Homo sapiens: one gene and its partners. The protein of the gene in region 2 interacts with the protein of the main gene of each other region in a pairwise test. Each region holds a gene or a part of one and is shown on either strand. Other genes may lie near its edges. The genes, in order: TSC22D2, SEC31A, FHL5 and SCYL1.

The links.
Region 1: the proteins of SEC31A (region 2) and TSC22D2 interact in a two-hybrid assay, tested with the Homo sapiens proteins (one study listed by BioGRID).
Region 3: the proteins of SEC31A (region 2) and FHL5 interact in binary tests that used the Homo sapiens proteins (3 or more experiments, as listed by UniProt).
Region 4: the proteins of SEC31A (region 2) and SCYL1 interact in binary tests that used the Homo sapiens proteins (3 or more experiments, as listed by UniProt).

The regions. Positions count from the first base shown.
Region 1 is NC_000003.12:150,453,293-150,460,324, reverse strand, and holds part of TSC22D2 (TSC22 domain family protein 2), read right to left. Parts: intron 3,250-7,032; coding exon 3,198-3,249; exon of another isoform or gene 3,193-3,197; intron 1,950-3,192; coding exon 1,689-1,949; 3' UTR 1-1,688. UniProt on the Homo sapiens protein: Reduces the level of nuclear PKM isoform M2 which results in repression of cyclin CCND1 transcription and reduced cell growth.
Region 2 is NC_000004.12:82,888,131-82,896,074, forward strand, and holds the start of SEC31A (protein transport protein Sec31A), read right to left. Parts: upstream 3,024-7,944; 5' UTR 3,022-3,023; coding exon of another isoform or gene 2,958-3,021; intron 2,936-2,957; exon of another isoform or gene 2,565-2,935; intron 1-2,564. UniProt on the Homo sapiens protein: Component of the coat protein complex II (COPII) which promotes the formation of transport vesicles from the endoplasmic reticulum (ER).
Region 3 is NC_000006.12:96,566,106-96,573,137, reverse strand, and holds part of FHL5 (four and a half LIM domains protein 5), read right to left. Parts: intron 1-7,032. UniProt on the Homo sapiens protein: May be involved in the regulation of spermatogenesis. Stimulates CREM transcriptional activity in a phosphorylation-independent manner.
Region 4 is NC_000011.10:65,535,051-65,539,204, reverse strand, and holds the end of SCYL1 (N-terminal kinase-like protein), read right to left. Parts: intron 3,979-4,154; coding exon 3,823-3,978; intron 3,253-3,822; coding exon 3,064-3,252; intron 2,947-3,063; coding exon 2,871-2,946; intron 2,620-2,870; coding exon 2,455-2,619; intron 2,220-2,454; coding exon 2,077-2,219; intron 1,397-2,076; coding exon 1,325-1,396; intron 1,239-1,324; coding exon 1,023-1,238; intron 955-1,022; coding exon of another isoform or gene 936-954; coding exon 881-935; intron 764-880; coding exon 639-763; 3' UTR 501-638; downstream 1-500. Other genes in the region: LTBP3 (latent-transforming growth factor beta-binding protein 3 isoform 1 precursor), read left to right, coding at 1-125. UniProt on the Homo sapiens protein: Regulates COPI-mediated retrograde protein traffic at the interface between the Golgi apparatus and the endoplasmic reticulum. Involved in the maintenance of the Golgi apparatus morphology.

The DNA of each region.
Region 1 (7,032 bases), on a different chromosome or scaffold from region 2:
TAGACAAGGATTTCCTACTTAAGTATCACTAACATAATATGAATATTGAGTACAAATATTGCTCACTATTTTTGCATTCTTTAAATTGTTTTACTTTGAAAATTTAAGAACTATCAGTAAGTCATTATTAACAGGTCTTTAAGGAGTATTTTGAACTGTGAAAATACAAATCTAGTCAAATTTTGAACACATATAGAGCCAAATATTTCAACAAAACTGCAGTTTAATTTCAGAAAATGTTAAAATATATATTTATACATCAATTTCTGACATACACTTAATGTGTTAGTATACACAAAATGATGCTTTCTTTTGAAACTGTATTTATGAAATGTACATTTTAATTTAAATACTCAGTATACACTGCACTTAATCTGCATGTTGCATTTATTAAATACATTAAAATCTGCAATGTAACAAAACGTTTTCTGCATACGAAATTCAAAACACCATTTTAAATGAACAAAAGATGGCTCACTTTTTTTTTTTTTTTTTTTTACAACTAGTGTATTGTACACTAGCTCAGCTCCACCAAACTACCTGTTCGTTCTCTTTTATTTGACATTGTTCACAGACTAGTACATATTACAATAAGAGTGCTGGATAAAAACATGAGGTACGAAAGTGGTTCAAAGATTATAGGTCATGCAGATCATGCTAGACAGTAAAGAAAATTGTGACTGAGAAAACACTAAATAAAAATACATAAAGAATGTGCATTATAAAAAAAAAAAAAGACAAAAAAAAAAAAACAACAAAAAAAAACCAAACTCCATTACACAGCTTTGCTTCTTTGGTTACAAAGTAGGTTGAACAATTTCACAGCTTTTTATTCCCACCCGAAAAAAAAGTCATACGAAATGTTGAAAAGCAGAGGAATCGTGGCAATTTCTCTTAGAAAGTAGAAACAAATGAACAAAGTTTTCTTCATCAAAATAGCCCAATTATTTATCATATCACAATAACTGGTGACTACCTGTACAGTTGCACTATGTTCTTCATACTTACACTATACAAAATTTACATTCAAGCTGGGTCTTTACTACTGAAAATAAATACCATAAGTAAATTGCCATTAGTGTTAGAAATATGCCAGGATTCTTTTGTTCAATTATTGCCTAAACGTTTTATCTATTAAATGCAATCCTGTCTTTCACTTCCTTTACTGATACTTATAATTATTCAAAAAAATTAAAAAAGTTCTGTGACATTGTTCATGTACATTATGAAAATAGCAGCCCTGTAATAAATAAAACACAAATAAATGAAAACTTATGTAGGCAAATGTTACTGAATCAGAAAGAAAAGTGGCTCTTTAGATGAACTGTTATTTATAATGTGATAGGAAGGCTCAGGGTAAATCCATGGGTAATAGGAAACATGGGAGAGCCACCAAAACTCTTAAAGACCCCACTCATGCGCACCAGGTAAAATGCAGACTTTGCTCGCTTTAATAAACCCCATCTATTATTCTCCTTGTGTACTGATGACATAGAACTGGACATCAACAGCGCTGCATGACATCTCAGAGAGAGGAAAAGCTCTTGTAGAATGATTGTCTAATACTGAAAAGGCCAAACACACAACCAAAGCATGGCTACTTGCTTTCGTATAAAGTGGAAAGAACACCAGTGGCACACAAGGATAGATTGCTTTCAGTTTTTTTCTTAATGAGGCTTAAGAAAGCTTTATGCTGAGGAGACATTCGGCTGCTGTGGAGGTTGCGTTGGCTGCGGAGGCTGTGCTATCACTGCTTGCTGTTGAGAAGTGCTACCAGGATTGGCCTGTTGGGTTGGGAGTTGGGATAATTGATCATTGCTTGAAAGAGATTTTAACAGTGCATTTTCTCGTTCAAGTAAAGAGTTTCTTTCAACTAATTCTTTTATTTGTTCCTTTAAAACTTCCACTTCTTCTCTTACTGCATACATCAAATGGCTTTTCACCAGATCCTGTGAAAAACAAAATTAGGAATGTCAAAAGAGTGAAAAGATAAAGGTGGTGCTATCTGGTTCTGGCCTACTTGGTGCTAAGTTTTTATACTAGTTTTCCTGCTCTTGCTTTTAATGTTTCTGCTTTATCTTGACCGAGCCTATGGAAGATGGGTTGGAAAAAATCCAGTTCCCAACCAGAGCAGTAAGCCCAGAATTTTCTTTTCAAAGTTTGGGACGATTTCCAAAAAATACTAGCTTCTTAAATTGTCAACTAAGCTTAGAATTAAAAAAAAAAAAAGTTTAAAATCACATGCTTAAAATGGTAGATAAAGAGAACAAAGGAACAATATTCCAACGGAAAGCTGTTTGATGTTAAACTAGTCATAGTACTGCTTTAAAGTGATCTGTAATTTTGGACTTTAAAATTTTGGTATTTTTAAAAAAATAGTTTGAGACTAACAGTCCTGTAAGGTCTCACACCGGTAATCCCAGCACTTTGGGAGGCTGAGGCGTGTAGATCACCTGAGGTCAGGAGTTTGAGACCACCTTGGCCAACATGGTGAAACCCCGTCTCTACTAAGAATACAAAAATTAGCCAGATGTGGTGGTGTGTGCCTGTGCTCCCAACTACTCAGGAGACTGAGGCAGGAGAATCACTTGAACCTGGGAGGTGGAGGTTGCAGTGACCCAAAATCATGCCACTGTACTTCAGCCTGGGTGACAGAGCGAGACTATCTCAAAACAAACAAAAATACCAACTTTTTTTGTAGAGACGGGGTCTTGCTATGTTGCCCAAGTTGGTCTCAAACTCCTGGCCTCAAGTGATCCTCCCACCTCAGCTCAGGTGCTGGGATTACAGACACAATCCACTGTGCCTGGCCTACTTATAGCTTACTTACAGTCTACTTCAATCAGACCTCCAGCTGTTTTTGCTTTAATACTCTTTTTCACTCTAAAGTATTTTCAATGCTGAAATATCTGGGGAACATATTGTCTTTAAATATGTATGCCCCCTCACCAATGGCCCTTATCAATGATAATGCATGAAATGTGAGATATTCAAATGGAAGAAATATCTACTTAAATAGTATTTCTAGACTAAAAGTTCTCAACGTTCTAGCATCTTCAACTAAATCTCATTATCAAAAAACATGATTTGGTCATCTTTGGTTTAAATAACTTATTTGTTTTCTAAAACTGACAAAAGCTAAGTGTTCCATACAACCAACAATCTATGAAATGGGAGAACTGTAAACTTTTACTTACCATTGCTTGTTCTATTTTGTTGTCAATGGCTACAACACCTCCCCCAGATGCACTGGAAAAAATTAGAATATGTTATTATTCTAAAAAATTTAACCTCCCTTCCAACTCTTAAAAGAATGTAAAAGACATTTGTGTTTCACTTAAAACCAAATATACAGTAATTTAAAATAGCTTATTCTGTTCTGACAATTTCAGTACTCAAAGCTCTCATTTCTAAAATGAAAGTCTCAGTAAATAGATGATTTCTACAGGTCCTTTGTAGTGCCAACATTTCTAATTTGCCTGTAATACATGTATGCTACTTTAAAACTAACTCTCAATTGTATTAAGAATTTCTCTGTTCAGTGGTTTTAAAAGGATACATTTTAAATGGGCAGTGTCTTCTCCGTATCTCTTAAATTTCTACATTAACCAACTATACATTCTAATTGCCTTTCATGTAGAAATTCCAATAATTACTTATTGTAGTAAAATTCAGATGATGGCTTGACTTTTTTTTTTCTAGTCCCTCCTCTTAGTAAGACTTTTCTGGTATAAGTTTTATACTTTAACATCTAGTTTTTTAAAAAAAACTTAATGGCTTCTAAAAATGGTTCAGAAAGTCTTTGGGTAGGATTGGTTAACAAGAAACTCAACATTCAGCCGGGCGTGGTGGCTCACGCTTGTAATCCCAGCACTTTGGGAGGCCAAGGAAGGTGGATCACTTGAGGTCAGGAGTTCCAGATCAGCCTGGCCAACGTGGTGAAAACCCATCTCTACTAAAAATACAAAAAAAATTAGCCAGGCTTGGGGCGGGTGCCTGTAATCAGCTACTCAGGAGGCTGAGGCAAGAGAATCACTTGAACCCAGGAGGCAGAGGCTGCAGTGAGCCGAGATCACGCCATTGCAATCCAGCCTGGGCAACAAGAGCAAAACTCCATCTCAAAAAAAAACAAAAAAAAAAAAAACAAAAAGAAACAACATTCTGGCAGACCTACATGTATTTGACTGTAGGTTACTTGCTGGCAAAAATCACCTATAAGGTATGTGTGGTTTAGATCAGTTCTTCTTGGGAATAACTGAAAAGTTATCCAGCCTGTAAGCACATTCCAAGTTCAAATATCACCTTAGCAATTGTATGATAATAACACAGAAGGCTAATTGTCCTCTTTGGTGGTTTATATTCTACCATGTATTAAGTAGTAAGAATAGCTGGAATTTATACCCTTTTATTGTTTTTTAATGAATTTTATTTCTAAAAACAGTTATTAGGTTTTTAAAAATTACTCTTGTAAAGAAAAATCTGATACTGTAGCTTATTGTATCAATACGAAAAGATAATTTTTTATATGTTACTAAATATTCTTCATAAAGTATACTCCACCTAAGATTTTAGTGCTAAAATACCTGGAAACTACTTTACTTTAGATGGTGTGGACCCATAATGTTGTATCAGATTGAGGCTCAGAAATATCCTGTCCTGTGATATCCTGCTATTCACTTCCTATGGGACATCAGCAAATCACCTATTTAACTTCCCTGGATCTGAGTTTCCCCATCTGTAAAACAAGGGGTTGATGTCAATGCCTCAATGGACTTTCCACTTCTAAATCCTTGAAATCTTGAATCATTACATGGGAAACTACGTTTGTTTATTTGAGCATTAACCACATTAATTACAGCATACTACCTTCACTTCTTGCTGCTACTATTTCTAAGATGAAAAGAGGTTTTGTATATCTAATATCTAGAAAGGATTTATGGATCATTAACAAATACTTTATATGTGCTGGGCTTTAAATGCTTTTAGTGAGCTGTGCAAAGTATGACTATATGTAACTATAAACTACAGAACCACTAAGTCAACCATAACGCTTTAGTATATACTTCAGTGCCAGATACCATGCAGACATATTCACCACAAATACTGAACACATTTTGGCAAAAAAGACGGTGACAGGCATTTAAATTAGTTTGCTTGGGAATCCCAGATTATACTTTCTATATTTTTATTGACATGACAAGGAAAGATTGAATTACTTTTAAGTCATGTCATGACTTAAATCATTTGATTCCTTCAACACATTTGGTTTAAATAGCACACCTTAAATACTAACTACAACATCAGTTTTATGTATTAACAAGCAGTAAAAAAAACAAAAATTACTGGGGTTTTTTTTTGATAATTAAAATCAGTCAGCGAGTTTTAGAATGATTCCCATAGCTAAGGAAGAATAGTTAGCATGCTATTCTTTGAATGCTGACCTAACAAACTCTTGTCCTAAGATCTCTTTTATGACAACAGAAGAAACAGGTTTGCAAGGTATAAATAGATCATGATGAAGATGTATCCCTTAAATGGTGTTAATATTTCAACTGTTAGGTGTTGTACTCTAATAGAATAAATCAGTGTCAAATATAATTACTACCACTATAGTGACCTTTAACTATCTTGAAGGCTATTATTCAAGAATTCTATAACCTACTGCAGGGGTCTCAAACTTTAGCATGCACCAGAATCATCTGGAGGTCTTGTTAAAACTCAGGTTGCTGGGCTCCCCCACTCAGAGTTTCTGATTCAGTAGGCATGGAACCAGGAATCTGCATTTCTAACAAGTTCCCAGATGATGTGGAATCTACTGTCTGACTATGCTTTGAGAACTGCTGGCTTACAAATGAAAGTTATAGGAGGAAAAATTAAGAAGCCTAATTCTATTTTTAAAACTTTTTAGCCTGGCATATAAAATTCTTTATGACTTTGACCTCTGCCTTATACAGTCTGTTTTCCTCTTATACTCCATCTGCCTATTGTGTTATGGTCTTATACAACTATTTGTAGTCTGTGGAACATATGTTCTCTCGGGTTTCCTTGGCTTTGCAGAAACTGCTCCCTCAGCTGGAAATGCTCACAGTTCCAATTCATCTGGCTATCTTAGACCTGTCCCTTAAGATGCTCCAGTGCCATCTCTTCTGTGATGCTGTTTGATTTTCTAAGGTAGAGCCAATTACTCCATCCTTTCTGGGGTCTACCAATCTTCGCAAACTTTTTATAGTGCAAAAAGGCAGAATAGCAAATTCTGGCTCCTCCATATACTCACTATATGAATTCTGGGAAATTATTTAACCTTTCTAGACCTCAGTTTTTTCATTTAAAATAAGGATTATATGCCAATTGTGAGGATTAAATGAGTTTACATAATGCATAGTACTTGGCACACTGAGCACTCAATACAGACAGTGATTACTTTGAGTATTGTAATACTACCACTGTTGATCCTATTAGATTGAGCTCTTTGAGAAAGGTTCCATAACTTCTTCATCTTTGTGAATAAGTGAATTCAGTGCTTAGCACATAGTAACTCAATGCATACTGATAGTAATTAGATATGATAGATTTGAAACAATTAATGGTTCATATGAGGAAGGCATTAAAATTTTTTGAGTTCAGATAAATCAGTTCTCAAAGTGTAGTCCCTGAACCAGAATCATCAGCATCACCTGGAAACTTGTCAGAAATGTAAATATTTGGACCCACCAAGACCTTGTTAGAAATGTAAATATTTGGACCCACCCCAGATTTACTCTTGGGGCGGGGCCCCGTAATCTATTTTAACAAACTCTCTAGGCGATTCAGATAGAAACTAAAGTATGAGAACCACTGCTTTAGCCATATTTACGATGGAGATACCAATATGGTAGTCTTAAGCAAATAAGAGACTATTTTATTTCAAGATCCCAGAATATGGTTTAAAAATACTGTTTCAATGAGGGTATCAAGATGTTTTCTATTATGTTCAAAGTTATCATAGTGAGATTTGACTCTTTTAAAATGAGAAAGATCAACTGAAGCAGAATC
Region 2 (7,944 bases):
TTGGGAGGCCGAGGTGGGCAGATCACTTGAGGCCGGAAGTTCGGGACCAGCCTGGCCAACATGGCGAAACCCCGTCTCCACTAAAAAATACAAAAACTAGCCGGGCGTGGTGGTGTGTACCTGTAATCCCAGCTACTCAGGAGGCCGAGGCAGAAGAATCGCTTGAACCCGGGAGGCAGAGGTTGCAGTAAGCCTGGGAGACAGAGCGAGACTCCGTCTCAAAAAAAAAAAAAAAAAAAAAAACACACAAAAAACATATATATATATACACACAGACACGGCCAGGCGCAGTGGCTCACACCTGTAATCCCAGCACTTTGGAAGGCCGAGGCGGGCGGATCACGAGGTCAAGACATCCAGATCATCCTGGCCAACCTGGTGAAACCCTGTCTCTACTAAAAATACAAAAATTAGCTGCGCGTGATGGCGCGGCCAGTAGTCCCCGCTACTCGGGAGACTGAGGGAGGAGAATCGCTTGAACCCAGGTGACGGAGTTTGCAGTGAGCCGAGATCGCGCCAATGTACTCCAGCCTGGGTGACAGAGCGAGGCTCTGCCTCAGAAAAAAATAAAAAAAAAAAAAAATTTCTTGAGGAAAATTTATATTCTAGACTAGAACTCTTTATTTTTCATGCAACTTTCTCTCAATAATTGCATTCAATTAGGTGGAAACTTTTTTATTTCTGCTCATTTTCAAAGTGTAAATTTTGTGAAGCAATACTAAAACCCACCAGCACTGTTCTTTGAAAAATACCAACCTTGCAATGCTATATACAGAGCTGATCCATAACTCAGAAAGCAAGTAAAAAGTTAAAGAGGTAATAGAATTGGAACTTGGATTCCCAAACCAGGTATACAATCCCTAGTTGGCACTGCTTTCAGTAAAAATCCATTTTCTGCAGGCAAAATATCTCAATATGGATAGAAACAATTGTTTAGAGGATTTATTTAGTATTTTCAATGTTCTAGGTTCATTTCACTCAACCCAAACCAAATCAAAGGAGAAAGCAACTGTGCACTGGTTACTGAACTAATTGGTGTCATACTAATCTTCAGTATAATAAAACTTTTTGAGCTGAAATTAACCTAATGACATTCCTAACAACAATGTAATCAATGTAAATCAATCTAGTAATATCCCCTTACAGGAGTTTTTAACTTGTAAACTTCATAATATTATGTATATAGAAAATCCTACATGTCACTTGAAAGCAGGAGCTTGAGTCCAGCCTGGGGAACGCAGTGAGACCCCCATCTCTATAAAAAATAAGATTAGTTGGGCGTGCGCCACGTGCATATTCCTAGCTACTTCTGAGGCTGAGGCGGGAGGATCTCTTGAGCCCAAAAGTTCAAGGTTATAGTGAGCTATGACTGCACCACTGCACTCCAATCTGGGCAACAAAGAGGGACCCTGTCTCAAAAAAAAAAAAAAAGTAAAAGAAAAAAAAAGAAAATCCTACATGTGTGTATATGTGCATTCTTCCAATGCTTTCATTAGATTCCCGTAAGACAGTGAAATCCCCCCAAAATTTTGAATCATTGCTCTTCACAGTTTACAAATTTATTTCTATTCCCATGTTATTGGTTTCAATAAAGAATTTGCTTATATAAAATTAAGCAATATCATTATAAATCCACCTCAAATTTCAAATTTCACAAATAACCGCGGACGTATTTAAGATAAAATCACTACAAAACTACAAAAACACTACGAGTTATCCAAAAGTTCTTAAGAGTCTACAAACCTCTCCCTGAGCTGTTAATTAAGGGATAGTGAGAAACAAGGAGCACAGAAGAACCACTAAAAAAGGAGAGTAGGCTGGGCGTGGTGGCTTATGCCTGTAACCCCAGCACTTCGGGAGGCCAACTCGGGCGGATCACTTGAGGTCAGGAGTGCCAGACCAGCCTGACCAACAGCGTGAAACCCCGTCTCTACTAAAAATACAAAAATTAGACAGGTGTGGTGGTGGGCGCCTGTAATCCCAGCTACTCAGGAGGCTGAGACGGAGGTTGCAGTGAGCTGAGATCGCGCCACTGCACTCCAGCCTGGGTGACAGAGCGAGACTCCGTCTCAAAAAAAAAAAAAAAAAAAAAAAAGGAGAGTAAGCTTTTGCCAACTCTTGAATAAACGGAGGTACAGAAAACGCAGGACGCTGTAACAAGAACACACCCTTATCGATTAAATACAGTTATAACTGCCCACAAAGACAACCAAATTTCAGTTTTCTATAGTTAGAAAAAATAAGTTAGGAGAAAGGATTTGTCACAGACTATCAGATCACTGCAACTTCAAATAGCCCTACGTAAAATTAATTCCTTAAGCGCAAGAAAAAATTTATAATGCCCACAAGTCCAGGCAATATTTTGGTTTATTTTACAACAGCCCCGTAATTTAACAACTTATTAGCAAAAACATGTAACACTTAATGAGACTGCCCTCAAAGTACAGGCTGCGCCTGGCTACCACCGTCCTTAAAATAATCCTAGTTAAATGACAGTAGACGTCAGTTCAAACCTATGAACCTTTAAATCTGGCAATAGTTCAAGTACAAAAAAAAATCCTAACCAAAGCCAAAGTAATCCTGAGATTTTTTTTCCTCTCCTCACCCTCGGGGACCGCACCTCTTTGTGCACAAGGGTCTGAAAGTCTCCTAATCTCAAACTCCAGTTACCAGCCCGGCTACTACTCCCCGGCAAGACACTGTCGCCAGCCTCGGGTGGCTTTTGCTCAGCAGTGGAGACGTCGGCGAATGCGGACGGGCGCGATCACTGGAGTCCAGATGCCAGGCGTTGTTCCGCCGGGCCCGAAACCAAGACTAGGGGCGCGCCGTCACCAGAGACCGGGCCTCAGGCTGGTGCGGGGCAGCGGAGACCCAGGCTGCGGTCCCAGTTTTGGCCTGGGCTCTACCTCAAAGCTTAAGGACCGGCGAAGAGGACAAAAAGCAACGGGCGGACGCACCTGGCGAGGACCTTCGGCAGCCGGATCCTGCGTTAGTGCAGCGCTCGTCGGACTCTCCCAGCATTCGCCGCCGCCCCTCCTCCCCGGCCAGGGCCACCTCCACGTTCCGTTCCAACGTGGCAGCCGCAGCCGCAGCCACGCCCTGCGCCCAACACTTCCGGGAGCGACATCTTTCCCCGCCCACCCGACGCACAGCCCGCCACGGCACTTCCGGGACCGGCGGTAGCCTGGGAGGCGGGGTACGGCTCCGCTGGTTGGTGGCGCTCTGCGGTCATCGCGCCCCGGCGATCGTAGAAACCCTTTTCTGAGGGGCGGCGCGCAGAATGTGGATGGGGTAGCCAGGACTAGTGGGTAAAGGACTAGTGCAGAGGGTGTCCCCGTCTGGCCGAATAACCGCCGTGGCCCGCAGGAACGCCACGTAGCACTAGTCCTGTGAGGCGTCGGCAGCCCCTGGCGACACTGCCCGCGCCAAACCAGGTGGAAAATCGGGCTGCAAGGGCTTTATTGTAATTTGTGACTGAGTTCTTAAAATTACCCACTTGATTGCACATTCTGGCGTTTTGAGAACTTATACAAAGTGAAACAATCTGGGCATTCCCAAAGGCTATTGTGGACAAAGAGGTATAGATGGGGTGTTATATTAATTCCAATTAGTACCGTTTCATACTTGTTACTATCCCATGGTATTGAGACCCGGTAGCACTCACCTTCTGCCACTGTTTCTCCACAACCTCAAATCTAATTAGATGCGTTGCCTAAGTGTACTTTTAGTTTAGGGAGGAATTATTTTACAGCAAGGTGAAGCCAAAGGAAAATCACTTGCTAAATTACCAGAAATTGGATTCAACCCAGATCTCCTAACTTCTAGACAAGTTCTTTTCTCATTACATCTAGCATTCAAAGCCAACTCTTGCACTTTGGGTAGCTAAAGCAGAAGGATCCTGCCCCTTGAACAGCAGCAGTGTTAACATTCCCACAGTCAGCTACATCTTCTGTAACATTCCATCTGAAGCTTGCAGCTTCATAAGACAGCTTAACATCAATTCACGCCAACTTCTGAAATAATGAACCCAACTTTTACTGGTAGTAATATATTCTCTTTCAGTCTTCTAATTACCATTTTCTTTCAACGCAGTAACTAAGGTTATCACTTTGGCCTGAATGCTAGTCAAACTGATTGGGATTTGTTTTTGATTAGTCTTCAATTCAAACAAGTAAATGCTCCATTTCAACCGCAAGCAGCTTTCTGTTCCTAGTGCAATTAAAACTGAAAGACGTTGAAGCAACTTTACCTTTTTACATTTATCAGACTTTTTCAATAGGCTTGTATTACAGCTTCATGCAGGTCTGGGTCTCAACCTATCTTTGCTTTGCTGTCACCACTTTCAAATCTAATCACATCCAATTTCACTTCCAGCATTATCACTTTTCTTTGCTGCTCTGTCCTTTGTTGACCAATTACCTCTTTTAATTATCCATTTTTATAAATGGTCACAAGTTTAATCTCTGGGGTCAAGGAGGCAACAGTACTATGCACTTTGTGCTCTGCTATCTGTGCATGAACTAAACAGATGATCAGTAACAAATCAACAAACTTTGAAAGCAAAGTAATGTAACTGGCGACTGATCATGATGCACATCTTTTTTTTGGGGGGGGGGGCACAATGATTTGTGGACTAAAGAGCTAGCAGCAAAATTTATGCAAGTTTTCTCAGTACTGTGGTAATGGAATTATTAACCACATTGTTGGACTGGTTTTATTTAACTGTGGTCACTGGTATTTATGCATATTGGAACTGTGCAAAGACTGCCTGTATCTAAAAAAAGAAAAACTCTTTAGTTCACAAAACTAAATCCAATTTAGTTAACTACTATCCAAGCCTAATCCTGAATCAAATAAAAACTGAATTGCTCACTAGAAGAATGTTTGGAGAGAATTTAATGACAAATTTTTCAAATTAGGATTTGCATAGCACAAAGATATTCTAGGTTTTTTTAGAGACAGGTTTTTGCTGTGTTGCCCAGGCTGGAGTGTGGTGGCAATGATCACAGCGCGCTGCAGCTTCAACATCCAGGGCGCAAGTGATCCTCCCACCTCAGCCTCCCAAGTAGCTAGGACTACAGGCACACAACACCATGCCTGGTTAATTATTTTATTTTCTGTAGACACAGGGACTCATTTTGTTGCCCATACTGGTCTGGAACTCCTGGCCTCCAGGGATCCTTCTGCTTTAGCCACCCAAAGTGCAAGGATTATAGGCATGAGCCTCCATGCCCATTTGACATTCTTTTGGGAATTCAGATCCCTTCCCCTCATTTCAACAGTCTTGATGTCTGCAAAGAGTGAAGTTGTAGACAAAACAATCATCACAAGATACATGAATGTTTATGTAACTTTTTCCATAGCAGCCAGTACTATGCTTACACCTCAGTAAAACAGTAGCATCCATTTCATTGTTTTAGTTTGTTTCTGAATGCATTTATTTCACAAATTTGTTTAAGGGCTATAAACAAAATTTGTATCAACTTGTTTGTATATATTTACAAAACAGAAAATTAAGTCAGCATTAAGTCAACATGAGTAGTCACAGAATTTTTCCCCTTTATAAATGGTACATATTCAAGGAGACTTCAAAAAGTTTGTGGAAAAATGGTTAAAAGATAAAAAATATAAACTATATTTTTGAACATTAGCTCTATAGCATTCAAGACACTTTTGTAAGTGATGATACCAGCTATTTAGTCCATCCCTAAAGAACTGAGAGTTCTGGGAATTTATCTACATCAATGCAGTTTCTTTATACATTAACTTGAGAAAAATGTACTGCCCTGAAAAATTTTTTTAAGATTAGGAAACAAAAAGTCAGAAGGTGCCAAACCAGGACTGTAGGGTGGATGCCTAGTGATTTCCCATCAAAACTCTTGCAAAATGGCCTTGTTTGATGAGAGGGATGAGCAGGAACATTGTTGTGGTGAAGAACTCTCTGGTCTTTCTCGGGGATTTTTCTGCTGAAGCTTTGGCTAAGTTTCTCAAAACACTCCCATGATAAGCACGTTACCATTCTTTGGCCCTACAGAAAGTCAACAAGCAAAATGCCTTGAGCATTCAAAAGCTGTTGCCATGACCTTTGCTCTCAACCAGTCCTCTTGTGCTTTAACTGAACTACTTATCTTGGTAACCACTGCTTTGTGTTTTGTCTTCAGGATTGCGCTGGTAAAGCCATGTTTCATCTCCTGTTACAATTTTTCAATGAAAGGCTTCAAGATCCTGATCCCACTTATTTAAAATTTCCATTGAAAGCTCTATTCTTGTCTGTAGCTGATCTGGGTGCAATGGTTTTGGTACCTATCAGGTATAAAGTTTGCTGAACTTTTCCAGTCAAAATTGTGTAAGGTGAACCAACTGAGATGTCTATGGTGTTGGCTGTTGTTTCTGCTGTTAATTGTTGGTTTTCTTCAATTACGCCATGAACTAACTTTTTTCTCACAAACTGATGTGGATGATCTGCCACTGTGGGCTTCTTCTTCAACATTACCTTATGCCTTCTTAAAACGAGTTATCCATTTGTAAACTGATTTCTTTGGAGCACTGTCCCTATCAACTTTTCATAAAGCATCAATTAGTTCACCATTCTTCCACCCAAGTGTCAACATATATTTGATGTTTGTTCTTGCTTCAATTTTAGCAGAATTCGTGTTGTTCTGATAGAGCCTCTTTTCAAACTGATGTCTTATTCTTCTTAGTGCTTCAAACTAGATCCTGTTCAGACATGTTATAACAAGTTAGTAGGAGTTTATTTTGGTCCAAAAATTTTGAAATCCATGCATAGTTTTTTCATGATATGCATTTTCCATGCACTTTTTCAAGACCCCTCATATTTTCTTAAATTTGAGAAACAACTACAATAACAAGCCTAATTCATGACAGAACTAGTATTAGATTTAAGATTCCCAGTTTCCTATCACCTTCTTTTCTACTGTTCCTGAACAGATCCTTAAGTTATAGGCTAGTCATCCTTGGCATATCTAACAGTCATTTGTAAACCCTGGATCTTTAAGAATATCAGGTGCTGAAAAGATTATATCATTATTTCTAAGAAAAGATAACCAACAGCCAGGTGTGGTGGCTTATGACTATAATCCCAGCACTTTGGGAGGCTGAGGTTGGTGGCTGGAAGTTTGAGACCAGTCTGGCCAACATGGCAAAACATGGTCTCTACTTAATAAAAAAAATTAGCTGGGTGTGGTGGCATGCGCCTCTAATCCCAGCCACTTGGGAAGCTGGGCCACAATAACTATTTGAACCCAGGAGGCAGAGATTGCAGTGAGCAGAGATTGCGCCGCTGCACTCCAGCCTGGGCAACAGAGTGAGACTGTCAAAGTTAAAAGCTCCACCCCCTCCAATGCCTTTCCTGAATTGAATCTATTAATTAAAAAAATACTATTTTGAAATAATACTTATCTTTAAAAGCTGGAAGAGTAAGGAAAAGAAATTTTTAATTCAGAGTACAGTATCCACATTAGGCTGAAATAAATGTCAATTTTCTGCTCATACCTGACCTTTTCTGTGTTCTTTTATCAAAATAAATGTGTAAGTCCCATACCTTATTATATAAATCTTCAACTTCTTGATCAAATAAATATGACAAATGATGTTCTCTAAGAAAAACACCCTTCAATTTTATTCCTAAAACGAAAAACATTCAAAGGAACTCATTGTGCAGAAACACAATATATACAAGTCTCATCATTTTCTTTTTCTATTATGTCCTCATCCACATACATTAATCACAACAAATCATGATGTGAACAGCAGTGGAAAAAATTTAATCATTGGACATTTATTTCTTGAACTTCAGCTCTAGTTGTAAGATTCTCATTGCTTAGCTCTTTAAAACAAATGCATATATTTATCTAATGTAGAACAGTTAAGACCTCCAATTTTACTATAATTGGGAAAAAAACTCAGAACAAAGATTATGTCAAG
Region 3 (7,032 bases), on a different chromosome or scaffold from region 2:
AAATGAATGAAAATATGAATGAATGAATTACATGTATGTATGACTTTTTGGTACTGTCAAAGATAATAAATAGTTTGATACCTTGATCAGGAGAACGGTTAATCTTCTTTCTAAAAGTATTAAAGGTCAGAGAGATAGCAGCAAGATAGCCAACTAGAAGCCCCTAGTGCTTATGCCTCTGTCAAAGACAGCCAGAACAATGGAAAAGCAGCTGCATTTTAAAACTAATAGAAACTTGGGTGAGCACAAAAACTCAGGATGGCTACATAGAGAATAAGGAAATGCCAGGCCTTCACCATCCCATCCCCCAAGTGGGATCAGCTGGAAGCCAGGAGGAACTTCTTATGGTGAGGAGGTAAGCAGGATGACTCCAACAATCTCCATCAACACCCTGGACACCAACAGACCTTCCCACTGGTGTTCTCTGCAGTCTTCTTAGGCACCAAGCCCACATGGTGAAGCTGCCTGGAGTCTATATAGCTGTGCTTAGCCAGAGAAGGAGTTGACACTGTGCCCCACCTGCTGTGGCCCATGTGACTATTGGCTATGGCATCTTGGAACAGGAACTACAGCTAGACTGAGCCTTACTCAAGGAGTAAGTAGTCATGGCTCCCCTTCATCCCTGAGACTAAACCACCCCTGAACCACCCCATCCCCAGAGCCCCACATCCCCAATATGTGCTGTTAACAGCTGTTAACACTTTTTCCTGTGGGGTCAAGTGGAGGTGGAATTGCTCTACCAACTCCTCCCCCTGCCCCTGCTGAAGCAGCATCCTGTCTCTTGGGAAAACAGTACCTTGGCTATTCAGAGCAGTCATGTCTCCCTGGTGTCTAAGTTGAAGTGGTGCCCTGCATCCTAGGAAATTGTGCCTTGGCCATCCAGAGCAGTCATGCACTCCATTACTTAAGCTGAACTGATGCCCCGCATCCCAAGAAAACAGTGCTTGTGCAGCCCAGAACAGTCACATCCTTCAAGCCTGAGCTGAAGTGGCACATTGTCCCTTGGGGAATTAGTGCTCTGGCTGAGCTGAGCAGAAACTGAGCTGAGACACCTTGCTCTATAAACTGAACAATTTTAGACTTCGATTCCCCAGCACTGGCCTAGCTCTCTAGAGTCTCAGATGCAGAAGTACCCCTCTATCTAGGGAGTGGAGTCATTGCTGTGTTTTTTCCTACCCACCTGTCACCCAGGGAACAAACAACAGCTGTCCTCCACCATTCTGGAGTACTGAAAGCAAATACACTTGGCCCCACACATTCTGGGATACTGCTGAGCACCACTATCCCAGGGTCTACAATCACTACTACCCAGTGCCTCATCCCTTGGAACCTGAGTTGACACTGAGCCCTATTGACTCAGGTTTCTGAATTGCAGCCATACCCTGCTCCCAAGGCCAAAGTTCCAGAGCACTCCTTATTCCCTGGAGTCAGGCCAGTGCTGTGCCCTGCCCCCCAGGGGTAGAATCACAGCTACAACCTGGCACCCTGAGCCTGAGCTGCTAGGGGGTCCCTCAGAATCATAGATCCTGGCTCTATGGGTAACCTACATCCAACCCTGCCACAAGGGGTGAAGCTGCACCCCAAGCCCAGTTGCCTCAATAGCTTTATGAGATACTGAGCTGAAAACTCCTACTGCATGTAGAATCCTGATCACTGCACGTAGAACCCATGCCACTGCAGCTGCTTGTAGGCCATGTCAGACTTGACACCAAAAGGGATGCGCTCAGCTAAGTCTCCTTATTTTAGAGAAAACCAGAATAGGAGGACCCCAGAAGCCCTTAACACAAAGAACATTAAAAACTTATGTTGCCAGTGCCATTGCCACAAACCTCTAAGCGTAGGCTATGAGGCACCCACAGTTATTCCTGACCTTGAATACAACTGAAGAAGCTGCACAGAGACTCTATCTCTATACCTATCTGGAAACAGAGTCACTACACCTTTTCTAACTGCACAGTAAAACTCAACTGCAGGATGAAAGACTTTCTTTATGAAAATCACTCCAGAAAGTTTGAAAAAGGTGATTATTTCACTAGATACACAGACATCAATGCAGGGACACAAGAAACATGAAAAAGCAAGGAAATAAGAGACCAACAAAGGAATATAATAACTCTCTAGTAACAGACTCCAATTAAAAGGAAATCAATTAATTGCCAAAAAAATGTAAAATAATGATTGTAAGGAAACTCAATTAGATACAAGGAAACACAGATACACAATTAAATAAAATAAGAAAAAAATTCACAATATAAATGAAAAATTCAATAAAGAGATAAAAATCATAAAAAGAACAAAACAAGAATCCTGCAGTTGAAGAATTCAATGAATAAAATATAAAATACAATAGAGAGCTTCAGCAGCAGACTTGATCAAGCAGAAAAAAGAATCTCTGAACTTAAAGCTAGGTCTTTTGAAGTTACCCAGTCAGAGAAAAGAAAAAAGAAATAAGAATGAAAATGAGTGAAGAATTCCTATAAGACTTATTGGAAAACATTAAACAAACAGATATTTGTATTATGGAATTTCCAGAAGGAGAAGATAAGGAAAAAGTATAGAAAGCCTGTTTAATAAAATAATAACTGAAAACTTCCCAATTTAGTGGTGGGGGTTGTGGAGGAGGGATATTTGAACATCCAGCTCCAGGAAACTCAAAATTCCCCAAATAGATTCAACCCCAAAAAGGTCCTCTTAGAGGTACATTATAGGCAAATTGTCACAAGTCAAAGACAGAGAGTTCTAAAAACAGCAAGAGAAAATTGTCAAGTCACATAAGAGAACTGCATTAGACTAGTAAATTTTGCTACAGAAACCTCACAGGCGAGGAGAGAATAGAGTTATAAACTCAAAATGGTGAAAGAAGAAAAAAAATTGCTAGCTAAGAATACTATACCCAGCAAAGTTATCCTTCAGAAATTAGGAAGAAATAAAGCCTTCTCGAGGTAAGCAAAAACTGAAGGAATTTGTCACCACTCACCTGGCCTTACCAGAAATGCTTAAGTGATTTTCACTTACATCTGGAAGTGAAAATCACTGTCATGAAAACACACCAAAAGTATAAAGCTCATTGGTAGAGCAGATATATGAGGAGAAAGAGAAAAGAATCAAACCTTGTCACTACAGAAAACCACCAAACCACAATGATTAACTATAAGAGAAAAAGAAAGGAACAAAAGATATACAAGACAACAGGAAAACAACAAAATGGTGGATGTTAAGTCCTCACTTATCAATAATAACCTTGGCTGTAAACAGACTAAATTCCCAACTGAAAAGATATAGACTAGCTGAATGAATTAAAAAAAAAAAAGACCTAAGTATATGCTGCCTAAAAGAAACTCACTTCACCTAAAAAGACACATATAGAATAAAAATAAGGGATGGAAAAAAAATCCATACAAATGGAAACCAAAAGCAAGGGAGAATAGCTATACTTATATCAGGTAAAGCAGACTTTAAACAAAAAGAGACAAGGTTATTTTCACTTCAGCAAGAAGATGTAACAATTGTAAACATACACACATCCAATACCACAACATCCAGATTTATAAAGCAAATAATTAAACCCAAAGGAGAAATAGATTTCAGTACAATTATAGCTGGGGACTTCAACACCCCTCAGCATTGGACAGATCATTCAGGCAGAAAATTAACAAAGAAACATTTAATTTAAACTGCACTTTAGACCAAATGAACCTACCAGACATTTACAGAACATTTCATTCAACAGCTGCAAAATACATATTCTTTTCATTAGAAAATGAAACATTCTTTAGCATAGACCACGTTAGACCACAAAACAAATCTTAACAAATTTAATAGAAATCATATCAATTTTTGACCACAATATAATAAAACTAGAAATCAAAATAACGAGGAACTTTAAAAATTGTACAAATACATAGAAATTATACAACATGTTCCTGAATAACAAATTAGTCAATGAAGAAATTAAGAGGAAGATTTTAAAATATCTTCAAACAAATGAAAATAGAAACACAAAATACCAAAACATCTGGGGTATAGCAAAAGCAGTATTAGAAGGTAAGTGTGCAGCAACAAACACCTATATCAAAAAAGTAGAAAGATATCAAATAAACAAGCTCATGATGCACTTCAAGAAACTAGAAAAGCAGAGTAAACCAAGCCCAAAATTAGAAGGAAAGAAAGAAAAGCATACATAAATAAAATTAAGACTAAAAAATACAAAATATCAACAAAATGGAAAGCTGAATTTTTTTGAAAAGATAAACAAAATCAACATTCCATTGGCTTGACTACCCAAGAAAAACGTAAAGGTCCCAATAAAATCAGGAATGAAAAGGAGACATTACAACTAATACCATAGAAATACAAAAAATTATCAGAGACTATTATAAACAGCTATATACCAAAAACTTTAGAAGACCTGACAGAAATAGGTAAATTCCTGGACACAAACAATCTATCAGAAGTGAACCAACAAGAAAGAGAACACCTGAACAGACCAATTACAAGTAATGGCATTAAGTCTGTAATAAAAAGTCTCTTATCAAAAAGAAGCTCAGAATATGACAGCTTCACTCTGGAATTCTACCAAAGATTTATAGAAGAACTAATACAAATTCTCCTCAAATTCTTCCAGAAATTGAAGATAAGGGAATTCTTTAAAACTCATTCTATGAGGCCAGTGTTACCTTGATACCAAAACTAGTCAAGGATGCAACAACAAAAAAAGAAAACTATAAGCCAATGAACATGATGAGCATAGATGCAAAAATCCTCAACAAAATACTTGTGAACCAATCTGGCAGCACATTAAAGAGATTATTCACCATGTAGGTAAGATTTACCTCAGGGATGTAATATACAAATGAATAAATGTGATACATTACATCAACAAAATGAAGGGCAAAAACAATTTGATCATCTCAAGAGATAGAGAAAATGTATTTGAGAAAAATTCAACATCCCCTCATGATAAAAATTCTCAACAAGTTAGGTATAGAAGGAATGTACTTCCACATAATTAAAGCCATGTATGACAAACCCACAGCCAATATCACACTGAATGGAGAAAAGTTTAAAGCTTTTCTTCTAAGATTTGGAAGACAATCATCTCACTTTTATTCAAAAGAGTACTGGAAGCCCTAGGCAGAGCACTTAGGCTAGAGAAAGAGATAAGGAGCATCTAAATTGAAAAGGAGGTCAAATTGTCCTCATTTGCAAATAACAAGAGCTTCTATATAGAAAATCATAAAAGCTCCACCAAAAATCTCAGAACTGATAAACAGATTCAGTAAAGTTGGAGGATACAAAAAAAAAAAAAAAAAGAATACAAAAACCAGTAGCTTTTCTATACACCAAAAACAAACTAGTGGAAAAAAAATCAAGAAACAAATTGCATTTATAATAGCTACAAAAAAAGCCATGTAGGAATATATTTAACCAAGGAGGTGAAAGATCTCTACAATAAAAACTGCAAAACACTGATAAAAAAAATTGAAGAAGACACAAAAAATGGAAAGATATCTCATGTTCATGAATTGTAGACATTAATATTGTAAAAATTAATACAATACTACTAAAAGTGATCTACCAATTCAATGCAATGTTATCAAAATACCAGTGATGTTCTTCACAGAAACAGAAAAAAACTCCTACAATTTATATGAAACCACAAAAGACCCTGAATAGCCAAAGCAATCCTGAGCAAAATGAACAAAGCCGGAGAAATCACATTTTGAACTTCAAAATATATTTCAAAACTATAGTAACCCGGATAGCATGATATTGGCATATGAATAGAGACATAGAACAATGGAGCATAATAGAGAACCCAGAAATAAATTCACATATTTACAGCCAAATGATTTTCAACAAAGCTGCCAAGAACATTTAATGGGGAAGGAACAGTCTCTTTGAAAAATGATGCTGGGAAAACTGAATATTCATATGCAGAAAAATGAAACTGTATTTCTACCTCACATAACATGTAAAAATCAACTCAAAATGGATTAAAAACTTAAATATAAGACCTGAATCTATGAAGCAACTAGAAGCAAACATAGGGGAAATACTTCAGGGTATTGGTGTGAGCAAAAATTTCATGGATAAGACCTCAATAGCACAGACAACCAAAGCAAAAATAGACAAATGAAATTATGTCAAACTAAAAAGCTTCTGCGCAGCAAAGGAAACAGTCAACAGAGAAAAAAGACAACCTGCAGGACAGGAGAAAGTATTTGCAAACTATTCATCTGACAAGAGTTTAATATTCATAATATAAAATGAGCTCAATAGCAAATAAAAAATCACATTAGAAAGCAGACAAATAAGCTGAATAGACATCTCTCTAAAGAAGACATACAAATGGCCAACAGGTAGGTACAAAAAATGGTCAATGTCATTAATCATCAGGGTAATGCAAATCAAAACCGCAAGAAGATATAATCTCACCCCAGTTAGAATGGCTATTACCAAGGAGACAAAAAAAAAATGCTGACAAGGATTTGGTGAAACACAAACTCTTATATGTTATTTGGAATATATGCATATATATGCCCATTATGGAAAACAGTTTGAAGGTTCCTCAAAAAATTAAAAATAGAACTACCGTATGATCCAACAATCCCACTACTGGGTATATATCCAAAGGAAAGGAAATCAGTATGTTAAAGAGATATCTGTATTCCCATGTTTATTGCAGCACTACTCACAACACATAGCCAAGATATGAAATTACCTAAGTTTCCATCAATAGGCGAATGGATTAAAAAAAGTGCTATATATCCCAATGAAGTATTATTTAGTTGTAAAAAAGAACAAATTTCTGTCATTCACGGCAACATGAATGAGCTTGGAGGACATTATTTTAAGTGAAATAAGCTAGACACAGAAAGATAAATACTGCATGTCCTCATGAATATGAAGAAGCTAAAAAAGTCAATCTCATAGAAGGAGAGAGCAGAATAGTGCTTACTGGAAGCAGAAAAGGGTAGGGGGAAGAAAGAGATAGCCAAAGGTAGGTTAAGAAATACAAAATACAGCTAG
Region 4 (4,154 bases), on a different chromosome or scaffold from region 2:
AGCGCGGGCTGCTGTGCAAGAGCGAGCGCTGCGTGAACACCAGCGGCTCCTTCCGCTGCGTCTGCAAAGCCGGCTTCGCGCGCAGCCGCCCGCACGGGGCCTGCGTTCCCCAGCGCCGCCGCTGACGCCGCCGACGCCGCCCTCGGCCCAGACCTCGGTGATCACTGAGGGATTTCCGCGAGCTCGGCCTCACTTCTGCCCCGACTTGTGGCTCGGACCCAGGGACCTTCAGGGCCCGCAGACCCTCCCGGCGCCTTGAGACCCGAGGCGCCCCTACCGGCCCCCCTCCCCGGTTAGCGGGCGGTTGTAAGGTCTCCGGCGGGCGCTGCCTGCCTTCCTCCCAGAGGGTGTTTCCTAGAAACTGATAAATCAGATCGTGCCTCTTTACCCTTGGCTTTCGAAGCAAATTGATGTTCACGTCTGACGTGGGCGCGGGCTGCGCAGGGCGGCGCCAGACCCCAGCCGCCTCCCAGGGGCTAGACTGAGCCCGGCACAAGGGGTGTGAAATAGAATTTATTGTGGCTCTGATTATGTACACGTGAGATGGCCTGGCTGGGCCGGCCGGGCTCACATGGTTTGTACAATAAATACATCTGTGGGGCGGGCTCTCCGCAGCCGGGAAGGGCCACCGCCACGGTTCAGTCCAGCTTCCGGGCTCCCAGCTTCATGGGGCCCTTGGCCACCTTCCTCTCGGCGCGTTTGGCCTCCATCTCCCGCCGCCGCTCCTCGCGCTTCTTCCGGGCCAGCTCAGCCTTGACCTGTCCTGGCGTCAGGAAGGGGAGCCCCGGTCTCAGCTCTCCAGCCAGTGCCTGCCGGGGGCCTGTAGGGGCGGGCTAGTCGGGGAGCCCTAGTCTTCAGCCCACCCAGGGGAAGCACTTACGACTGTCAGTCTCGAGGCCCTCCCAGTTGTCCTCACCCCAAGAGTCTGGCCTCGGCTGTAAAGAGAAGTGTGGGCTGCAGTGGGGCCCACTTCTGGCTGAGGTCCACCATCTCTACCCTCTCGCCAGACCTGTGCTGGGTACCTGGGTGCTGGGACGTGCAGACAGGGTAGCGAAGGGGTCGCCCTTGTCGCTGGACTCTGGGCCACCCCAGTTATACTCGCTGGCCAGCCGTGTACCGTCAGGAGGTGGCTCCTGGGAGCTTGGCTCCTGCCAGCCCTGTTCCCAGGAGCCCTCAGCTTCCCAGCTGCTCCAGTCGGACTCTGGGGATTTGGAGGATTTGTGGTCGGAGTTGCTGACCTGTAGAAGAGCGGGAGGGGGAAGTAGCCCTGGGCCCAAGGAGGAAAGAGCCCCATACACACACCTCCCCACCAGACCCAGCTCACCTGACTAGCACGGCTCACTTGGCCCCCGGTGCTCCAGTCGTCCTGCTGGGCCAGCACAGACTCGGCCTCCTGCTGCAGTGTGGGAAGGGACCACTGACTCCCACCCCATGCTAAAGGGCAAGTGAGCCCGCCCCAGCATCATCCCAGCCACGGGCCCCACCACTGTCTTTTGCCTTCCTCCTCATTTGCTCCTCAGGCCCTGTTTCCCATCTATTAAATGGACGCTGACCCTGGCCTGCCCTCACCCCTCTTTAAGGCTGGGGAATGAGATCTAGATGCCCCTTCCAACAGCCTTGAGGGCCAGAAACTGCTGCTGTCAGCCAGATGGGGAAATTGGGCCCCCAGCTCTGCCCCATTCTGAGGACAGCCCCAGTCCTCCCTCAGCCCAACCTGAGCCCATCCCCCAAGCAGAACTGGTCTGGTTCTAGACCCAGGAGTGGCCTCTCCTTGCTGACCCCCATGGCTGGGTGGGCACTGGAGGAGGGGAAAGGGGGACGGTGTGGGTAAGAGTGAGGAAGTTCAGGGAATGCCCCAGGCACCATCTGCCTAGCCTGCTCCCTGGGGCCGCTGGGGTTGAATGGGGCCTGCTGCTGGCTCTGGCCTACAATGGCCACTCCATGAGGCCTACGTGCCAGGGATGCTGTGCTGATGAGGACAGGCCAACTCCAGCCAGGCCCCACAGAAGCTCCCTGAATGGCAGCCTGTGGATTTGAGCTGGGGTCCCCTGGGGAGGCTCCCTCAGCCCCACACACCTCCAGGCTGCCCCAGTCTTCGTCGTCCCATCTGTCAGCAGTGCTGCTGTCCTCTGCTGTGTCCTTGTCCTCCTCCTGCGTCTCCCAGTGGCCTGAGGTTGTAGGGGTGGCAGGAACAGGGGTGGGGGCTGGGGCAGGAACTCCTGGGGAGCAGAGGCTCACTGAGCTTTCAGGGGGGTCTTGGGACAGGGCAGAGGCTGCTAGGGGAAGGGGGCTACTGGGGGGAAGGGGCACCAAGGAAGCCCACAGGGTGACTGGAGCCTACCCAGCTCCTATATCCCCTTCACCATCCCCGGGGGAGTCAGACAGTAAGAGTTCCTGGGTGCCTGCAGCTCTCAGCCCTCTCAGCCACTGATGCAGCTAGGCCAGGACACTCACCTTCAGGCGTGGGTCTTTGGGGAATGTTGGTTTCTGTTGGGGCAGTGGTTGGGTGCGAACGGATCAGCTTGGAGGTGAGTGAGGAGACCCCGGTCACGGCCCAGCCTGCCCAGCTAGCTGCGGCTCCTCCCATGCCAGGGCTGGAGGCTGCATGGACATCCTTCTCTGGGCAGTGGCATGAGAGAGAGGTGGGTATGGGCACGTCAGGCACCCATGGGTGACAGGACAGCAGGAACTGACAGTGCCCTGCAGCCACCCCTCCTTTCTCCAGGCCTGATTTCTCCCATCTGTGAAGGGGGAGCTGAGTCAAGTCTGCTCACTAGGACCTTTCAGAAACTCCAGTGGGGGTGGGACACAAACAGGTCACAGTCAAGGACATGGCAGGGAAAGAGGGAACACGAGTGTAAGCCACTCACCCACTTCCTCCAGCTGGGTCGGGTCCTCCGACACAGACTCCAATTTGGACAGGAAGCTCCGAATGGCCTTGAAGGCCTGTGGGGTAACGAGGCAGAGCTGGGGTCTCTGGGGTTCCCAAGAACCTACCAGGCCAGCTAGGGGCTGACATCCCCTACAGCCCCAGCCCAGGGCCCAGGCCCAGCTGTGCCTCACCTGGTCTCGCACGGATTTCTCAGGATCTACAGTGAGACCGCAGAGCACAGGCAGGATCTTCTGGGCACAGTCGTTCATTGAGTAGAGGTTGTGGGTGGCAGCAAAGCCCAGGACACCCGCAACCCGGGACGGTGCAAACGGGTCCCTAGTGGCTCGGCTGAAGGCAGAGGTAAGGACCCTGTGTCTGGTCTACGATGGGGCAGGAAAGAGGGCTCCTGAGTGTAGGGTCAATGTTGGGACCCAGAACCACCAGCCCTTACTTCCCAGAATGGGACCACCCATAGGTCCCCAGAATCTGAAAAATATGAATGAATCACTTAAATGGGGAGAGTTGACCTAAAACTCTGGACCTGGGCTTCTCTTCCCAAATCACTGGGTTCCACACTGCCTCAGGGCATGGGACCACAACAGCAGCTGTCCCCAGGGCTCGGACACAGGCTCCCTTCCTCCCTGCCCAGCTGACCGTTCATTCCTGTTAACTGTCTGGGCACGGCAAGCAACTGAACTTACAAACCCTGGCTGAAGGGATGCACACAGGCCATGGGGCCAAGCACGCCTGGATTCAGATCCCAGATCCCTCCTGACTGTGTGACTTCGGCCAACTCACTCCTCCTCTGGGAACCCAGATATGGGGCCAACAGCGTGCAGGGTCTAAGTCTCTGGGAGAATGAAGGCCCCCACACACAAGACTCCTGGCCCTGGAGGAGGCTGTGGTCCTGCGACAGGGACCGGGCTCCAGCAGTTGTGCAGGACACTCACGCTAGCACTGAGGTAGGAGCCGATTTTGCCCAGGCAGACTGTGGTGTTGCAGCGGATGGGGCCCTGTTCATCCTTGGCCTGTAGCCGTGCAAAGTGCTTCATCAGCTCCACATTGAGGTTGGCCTCGTTCAGCTTTGGGGCCAGGAGCAGCATGGACTGTGGGGCAGAAATGAGTGGGAACTGTGGGCTGTGGCGGGCAAAGGGCCTTGTGCAGGAACAGCCTCCTGGCAGCCCTCATCCCAGAGCACACCCATCAAAGCCTGCAAGGCCACCTCCCAGCCTGGGCCTGGCCCTGTCCAGCATGTTGAAGAAAGGGACCCCATTTCTGTCCC